2 linked regions of the Homo sapiens genome follow. The protein of the gene in region 1 purifies or fractionates together with the protein of each later gene. This does not show direct contact. Each region holds a gene or a part of one and is shown in the gene's direction. Other genes may lie near its edges.

Region 1 (3,815 bases):
TATCCACTCAGCACTCAACAAACATTTCAGTCCTACTATTTTCCTGGTTCTGGGTTCGATGCTAAGGAGACAAACAATATATCGTGTACATGCAGTGCTCATCTAGTGTCTGGTCGGTTTAGCCAGCGCACATATACATCAGCTCTTTTTTTCTTTTTGAGATGGAGTCTTGCTCTGTTGCCCAGGCTGGAGTGCAGTGGTGCGATCTTGGCTCACTGCAGCCTCCTCCTCCCAGGTTCAAGCAATTCACCTGTCTCAGCCACCCAAGTAGCTGGGATTATAGGCATGTGTCACCACACCTGGCTACATTTTTTTTTGTTTTTTTGTTTTTGTTTTTGTTTTTTTGTTTTTTAGATGGAGTCTCGCACTGTCGCCCAGGCTGGAGTGCAGTGGCGCGATCTTGGCTCACTGCAACCTCCGCCTCCTGGGTTCAAGCGATTCACCTGTCTCAGCCACCCAAGTAGCTGGGATTAGAGGTGCCCGCCACCACATCTGGCTAATTTTTTGTATTTTAGTAGAGACGGGGTTTCATCATGTTGTCCAGTCTGGTCTCGAACTCCTGAGCTCAGGCAGTCCACCCGCCTCAGCCTCCCGAAGTACTAGGATTATAGGGATGAGCCAATGCGCCCAGCCTTTTTTGTATTTTTAATAGAGACAGGGTTTCACCATGTTGGCCAGGCTGATCTTGAACTCCTGACCTCAAGTGATCTGCCCACCTCGGCTTCCCAAAGTGCTGAGATTACAGGGGTGAGCCACCTTGCCTGGCCATATCAGCTCTTCGTAAGTACCTTTTATTCCTTGACTTTTAGTATAACTGACTGTAGCTCTCCTGCTTACCAGCCACGTTATGGCAGGCAAGTTATCTAACCTCTCTGTGACCCAGTTGCCTTATCTGTAACATAAGGAAAATTACTGAATCTATTTTAAAGCACTGTCAGGAGGATTAAATGAGGAAAACACTTAGAATAGTGCCTGGCACTGCGTAAACACTCAGTAAATGTTAACTGTCATCATCATGTTATTGTTACAGAAAGAGTTGCAGTATTCTGGAAAAATCACTCACTCATTTAAATAGATTTTTTTTTTTTTTTTGAGATGAAGTCTCGTTCTGTTGCCCAGGCTGGAGTGCAGTGGCATGATCTTGGCTCACTGCAAGCTCTGCCTCCCGGGTTCATGCCATTCTCCTGCCTCAACCTCCTGAGTAGCTAGGACTACAGGTGCCCGCCACCACACCTAGCTAATTTTTTGTATTTTTAGTAGAGATGGGGTTTCGCCATGTTAGCCAGGATGGTCTCGATCTCCTGAACTCATGATCCGCCCGCCTTGGCCTCCCAAAGTGCTGGGATTACAGATGTGAGCCACCACGCCCGGCCTAAATAGAATTTAATTTCCAGAAGGAGTTTACTAATCCACCTCTCAAAACCCTACTATTGACAGGGCGCAGTGGCTCATGCCTGTATTCCCAGCACTTTGGGAGGCCGAGGTGGGCGAAGGTCAGGAGTTCAAGACCAGCCTGGCCAACATGGTGAAACCGCATCCCTAATAACAATTTTAAAAACTCTCTTGGTGTGGTGGTGGGCACCTGTAGTCCCAGCTACTTGGGAGGTTGAGGTGGGAGGACTGCTTGAACCTGGGAGGTGGAGATTGCAGTGAGTCGAGATCACGCCACTGCACTCCAGCCTGGGCAAAAGAATGAGACTCCATCTCAAACAAACAAAACCCTGTCATCAGGATCATAGTTTGTGAGTAACAGCCTCCACCCTAACACACACTTGCTTTATCAATATCAAAATGTTTTTGAGGCTGGGCACAGTGGTTCATGCCTGTAAGCCCAGCACTTTCAGAGGCCGAAGGGGGTGGATCACTTGAGGTCAGGAGTTCGAGACCAGCCTGGCCAACATGGCAAAACCCTGTCTTTACTTTATGCAAAAATTAGCTGGGTGTGGTGGCAGGCACCCGTCATCCCAGCTACTCCGGAGGCTGAGGCAGGAGGATTGCTTGAACCAGGGAGGCAGAGGTTGCGGTGAGCTGAGATCGCACCATTGCACTCCAGCCTGGGCGACGAGAGCGAAACTCTGTCTCAAAAAAAAAAAAAGTTTTTGAACAATATAAAGCCCTATAGACTGGTTACAGAAGAAGGGTAGCATTTGTTACAGATGTAGTCTATACATGTTGTTTTCCTTATAAATGACATGATTTGACTTTAGAAAAGTCATTACTCAAACGTGATTTAACATCTGTGATGGCCGAGGAGCTGTGCTCTGTACTAGGAATTTACATTGAACAAAAGCTCTTATGGAGCTAAATGGTCTGTTGGGAAGGACAGATGCTGAACAATAGTAACAATAAAACGAGATGTGTTCTGTCTTTGGGAAGGTACAGTGTCAGCAAATCAGTCGTATGGGGCTTTATCTCCTATCTTTTCACTCAATGTGGGAATATTTAGAGCTGCCCGCAGGCCTTCACTTGCTGGTGTACAGTTTCCTGGGGCCGTACACCAGGTAGTTTTGCTCATGTTTCATGCTCAGTGTGGTTCTGTGAGGGAGCCTGATCTGGACGCTTGCAGGCCAGGCTTTCCTTAGACCTCACATCAACTTGAAGGTAATTTGAGTCTGCCATCTGCTCTCCGCAAACTTCAACTTACAAAAAGCAGGCCTGTTTTTACTAACCCAGAGGACATTTGCCATATGGCAAGTTAGGCAAGAGATGTTGGCGCTGGTTAAGGAGATTTGAAAAGGATTTTCTGATCAAAAGGAAACTAAGCAACCCCTTTTGGCCAAAAATTATAATTGACCTTGGTAATGGTTACCAGGGAAGGCATTTGGATTCAATTAGAATGCGTCATGAAGCATGGAGAGCTTCAGGGCTATCCTGTTTAAAATGTCTAAGCCAAATAAAATTTGGAAGTGGAGTTTGTTCAAATCCTCAAGGAAATTACCATTTGGATTTTTAGAAAGCCTTGAATATTACAATGGAATCATTAGGCCAGGATCTAAGAAAAGTGGCTGGGTCTTTCAGATACCTGGCTGAAGACAGTAAAGATTATAATAAAAATTGGAAATAAATGGATATTTATGTTTTTGATGCTGAACATTTGGCAGGCCACCATCTAGGAATTGTTAAGTTATTATGACATTAGGATGTTTGGGAATGGCTGGTGACTCTTTCTCTAGGTAGCATATATCTCTCTGGGTTTACGGTTTCAAACATGAGATATATTGAAATATATTTAGGTCACTCGTATAGCTACTGAAAGATACTTCTAATTTATAACATATACAACTTGGTTTTTTAGGCATTCTCATTTTATATGGAAAATGCTTTGAAGTTTAAACTTCTTAACCTTTTTTTTTTCTCCTTAGGAAAATAAAGCAACCAACACAGACCATTTAACCACGGTACTCTACCTCCAGCTTGCTATTTGTTCAAGTTTGCAGAACTTGGAGAAAACAATTTTCTGCCTGCAGAAACTGATTTCTTTGCATCCTTTTAATCCTTGGAACTGGGGCAAATTGGCAGAGGCTTACCTGAATCTGGGGCCAGCTCTTTCAGCAGCACTTGCGTCATCTCAGAAACAGCACAGTTTCACCTCAAGTGACAAAACTATCAAATCCTTCTTTCCACACTCAGGAAAAGACTGTCTTTTGTGTTTTCCTGAAACCTTGCCTGAGAGCTCTTTATTTTCTGTGGAAGCGAATAGCAGTAATAGCCAGAAAAATGAGAAAGCTCTGACAAATATCCAAAACTGTATGGCAGAAAAGAGAGAAACAGTGTTGATAGAGACTCAGCTGAAAGCATGTGCCTCTTTTATACGA
Region 2 (3,815 bases), on another chromosome or scaffold:
TGCTCTATAGAGATTGGATTGAGGCCAGGCACAGTGGTTCACACCTGTAATCCCAGAACTTTGAAAGGCTGAGGCGTGTGGATCACCTGAGGTCAGGAGTTCGAGACCAGCCTGGCCAACATGGTGAAACCCCATCTCTACTAAAAATACAAAAATTAGCCAGGCATGGTGGTGGGCAACTGTAATCCCAGCTACTCGGGAGGCTGAGGCAGGAGAATCGCTTGAACCAGGGAGGCGGAGGTTGCAGTGAACCGAGGTTGTGCCACTGCACTCCAGCCTGGGTGACAGAGCGAGGTTCCGTCTCAAAAAAAAAAAAAAAAGAGATTGGATTGGAGGCAGGGAGGGCTGGAGTCTTCCACACAGGAGGTGGTGTGAGCTGTGCCAGGGCTGAGGTGGGTGGAGGGAGTGAGGAGAGGGAGGGATTGTTGAGGCAGTGGGGAGCTATAGTGAGTCTCAGGGATGACTCCCCCCAGCTCACGCTGGTGGGATGGACAGGTGGTGGGTATCCATCTGAGAGATGGAGAGCCCTCTGCAAATCCAGCATGTCCTGGTTCCAGGTGGGGCCGGGGTGGTGAGGAGCTGGGCTGGTGGGCGGCCTCGGTGACAGAGCCTCGCCGCCCCAGCGGGGCAGCTGGCTGGGACCTCGTCGGTGGAGATGTACCGCCAGGCACTACTATGGGGCTGCCGCTGCGTGGAGCTGGACGTGTGGAAGGGACGGCCGCCTGAGGAGGAACCCTTCATTACCCACGGCTTCACCATGACCACAGAGGTGCCTCTGCGCGACGTGCTGGAGGCCATTGCCGAGACTGCCTTCAAGACCTCGCCCTACCCCGTCATCCTCTCCTTCGAGAACCATGTGGACTCGTGAGTGAGCCCCTGGCATGAAACCCCATGGACCGGGGGACAGTCTTCCAGCTTCAGTGCTGTTGGACTGCTCAGGGACCTCCAACCCTGCGAACGGCCACTGACATGTCCCGTAGACCTCAGCTTCCTCTCTGGGGGAGGGATCTCTGACCTCTGACCTCGGTTCCGCAGGGCAAAGCAACAGGCAAAGATGGCTGAGTACTGCCGCTCCATCTTTGGAGACGCGCTACTCATCGAGCCTCTGGACAAGTACCCGGTACGGGAGCTCGGAGCGAGGGGGGTGGCATGGGGGCCAGGGTGCTGCGGACCCGGTCCAGGGCCCTGACTCGTCCATGCCTGCCCAGCTGGCCCCAGGCGTTCCCCTGCCCAGCCCCCAGGACCTGATGGGCCGTATCCTGGTGAAGAACAAGAAGCGGCACCGACCCAGCGCAGGTGGCCCAGACAGCGCCGGGCGCAAGCGGCCCCTGGAGCAGAGCAATTCTGCCCTGAGCGAGAGCTCCGCGGCCACCGAGCCCTCCTCCCCGCAGCTGGGTAGGCCCCAGCCCGGCCCGCCACCCTGACTTGACCCTAGCCTCTGGCCTCATGCTCCAGGCGCCGTGACACTTCATCCCAGACCCCCAGCCCACCCTCCTGCCTCGCTGTGCGCCTGTTCCCACAACCGGCCTGTCTCCTCACCACCTGTCGGCTGGTGTGGGGCCTCTGACCCCTGACCTCAGGTGCACGTCTCACCCAGCTGCACCCCAACTCCTGACTCCCAACCTCAGCCTCTCACCTCTCAGAGCCTTCCCACAACCCGGTGATGGCTCTGAAGGCTGACCTCTGACCTCAGTAAACCACATCCCACACTGGGTGTGACCTCAGACCCCTAAGCCCGCATTGAGTTCACCTGCCCAGTTGGTTATCATTTCAGCTGACCTCTGACCTCTCACCCCTGACTGTTCACCTCACTATGCCCCCTCCTTAGACATGGCTCTGACTTACCCCTGACCTGTAACCTCTCTATGTCATCCCTTACCCCGCTATTAGGGCTGTGGTATGCTACTTCCTGACTTCTCACCCCACTGAACCACCCTATCTGCCTCCCTGCTGAATATCACTGCAGACCTTTACCTTTGACCTATGACCCCTCTCAACCCATACTGGGTTAATACCATCTGACCTCGACCTCTTGGCCTCTCCCCAAGCCACACTGCCCTGAGAGTACCCCTTGAATTCCCCACTGAGTCACCTCGGCACACACTGGGAAAAACCCCTCCAGACTTCCTAAGCAGCTGTGTGGTCCTGACCCCTCACCCTGTGGCCCTGTCCTCTGCAGGGTCTCCCAGCTCTGACAGCTGCCCAGGCCTGAGCAATGGGGAGGAGGTAGGGCTTGAGAAGCCCAGCCTGGAGCCTCAGAAGTCTCTGGGTGACGAGGGCCTGAACCGAGGCCCCTATGTTCTTGGACCTGCTGACCGTGAGGATGAGGAGGAAGATGAGGAAGAGGAGGAACAGACAGACCCCAAAAAGCCAACTACAGATGAGGTCAGGCCCACAGGGTGGGCAGGTCGGGGAGGTAGCATCTATTTACCTCCCAGGGGGCTGGGTCTGACCATCAACAAGACTGACATCACCCCTGCCTCCTGGGGCTCAGTGTGGGTGTGAGTGAAGGTGGGAGGAGGGCTCTTCAGTCATCAGGCATGGAAACAAGCATACAGTTCTGCTGGTGATGTGGCCTGGGAGGTGCGAGTTAGGGTACAGAACTGGCAGAGGATAGGGAGTCTACCCTGGGCAGGGAGGTGGGGCAGGGAGACCTCAGGAAGGGGGACAGCATGTACAAAGGTCCTGGGGCAGGGCCAGGGGGTGCAGGAGCGGGGAGCATTGTCATGGGGAGCATTGAGTAGCTGTGAGGAATGGTACAGAAAAAATCAGTCTGAGCTGGGCGTGGTGGCTCACACCTGTGATCCCAGCTACTCGGGAGGCTGAGGCATGAGAATCCCTTGAACCTGGGAGGTGGAGGTTGCAGTGAGCTGAGATTGCACCATTGCACTCCAACGTGGGCTAAAAAGGGAGACACTATCTCAAAAAAAAAAAAAAAAAAAAAAGACATCATTGCTATAAAGACAATTACTGGAGCAATTAGTGAAATTTAAAGATGGACTACATATTAGATAATATGTTAATGTTTTGTTTCCTGAATTTAATTATTGTATTGGAGTTATAGAAGAGAATGTCCATATATGCTGAAGTATTTATGGGTAAAGGGTCATGATGTCTATAATTTACTCCCAAATGATTCAGTAAAAGTAATGATAATTATAACACCTATATGGGCCAGGCGAGGTGGCTCATGCCTGTAATCCCAGCACTTTGGGAGGCTGAGGTGGGCGAGTCACCTGAGGTTGGGAGGTTCCAGACCAGCCTGGCCAACATGGTGAAACCCCATCTCTACTAAAAATACATAAATTAGCCGGGCAAGGTGGCGGGCGCCTGTAATCCCAGCTACTTGGGAGGCTGAGGCAGGAAAATTGCTTGAGCTGGGTGGTGTCCAGGGCGCATCAGTGAGACCCCGGGGAGAAGACTGTCGGCACCACCAGCAGTGTGTATATAGTGCTGGGAAGAGGGTCAGCACCTCCTTCATGGGGGGCAGGTGAGGGAATGGCCAGCTGTGGCGGGAATGGCACTGCTGACCCTGGGTTGGGGCCCACAGGGCACAGCCAGCAGCGAGGTGAATGCCACTGAGGAGATGTCCACGCTTGTCAACTACATCGAACCTGTCAAGTTCAAGTCCTTTGAGGCTGCTCGAAGTGAGTGGGGGTGGGTGGCAGGCATGGGAGCTTGCCCAGCTCAGCCCTGCCAGGTCTGACGCCCTTTCTTGGCTCACCCCTAAGAGAGGAACAAATGCTTCGAGATGTCGTCCTTTGTGGAGACCAAGGCCATGGAGCAACTGACCAAGAGCCCCATGGAGTTTGTGG

What was found.
Region 2: the proteins of C8orf76 (region 1) and PLCB3 purify together in Homo sapiens (affinity purification with mass spectrometry; one large-scale study listed by BioGRID and IntAct). This does not show direct contact.

The regions. Positions count from the first base shown.
Region 1 is NC_000008.11:123,231,305-123,235,119, reverse strand, and holds part of C8orf76 (uncharacterized protein C8orf76), read left to right. Parts: intron 1-3,362; coding exon 3,363-3,815. Other genes in the region: ZHX1-C8orf76 (zinc fingers and homeoboxes protein 1), read left to right, coding at 3,363-3,815.
Region 2 is NC_000011.10:64,257,850-64,261,664, forward strand, and holds part of PLCB3 (1-phosphatidylinositol 4,5-bisphosphate phosphodiesterase beta-3), read left to right. Parts: intron 1-623; coding exon 624-864; intron 865-1,035; coding exon 1,036-1,120; intron 1,121-1,208; coding exon 1,209-1,395; intron 1,396-2,179; coding exon 2,180-2,385; intron 2,386-3,550; coding exon 3,551-3,647; intron 3,648-3,731; coding exon 3,732-3,815. UniProt on the Homo sapiens protein: Catalyzes the production of the second messenger molecules diacylglycerol (DAG) and inositol 1,4,5-trisphosphate (IP3).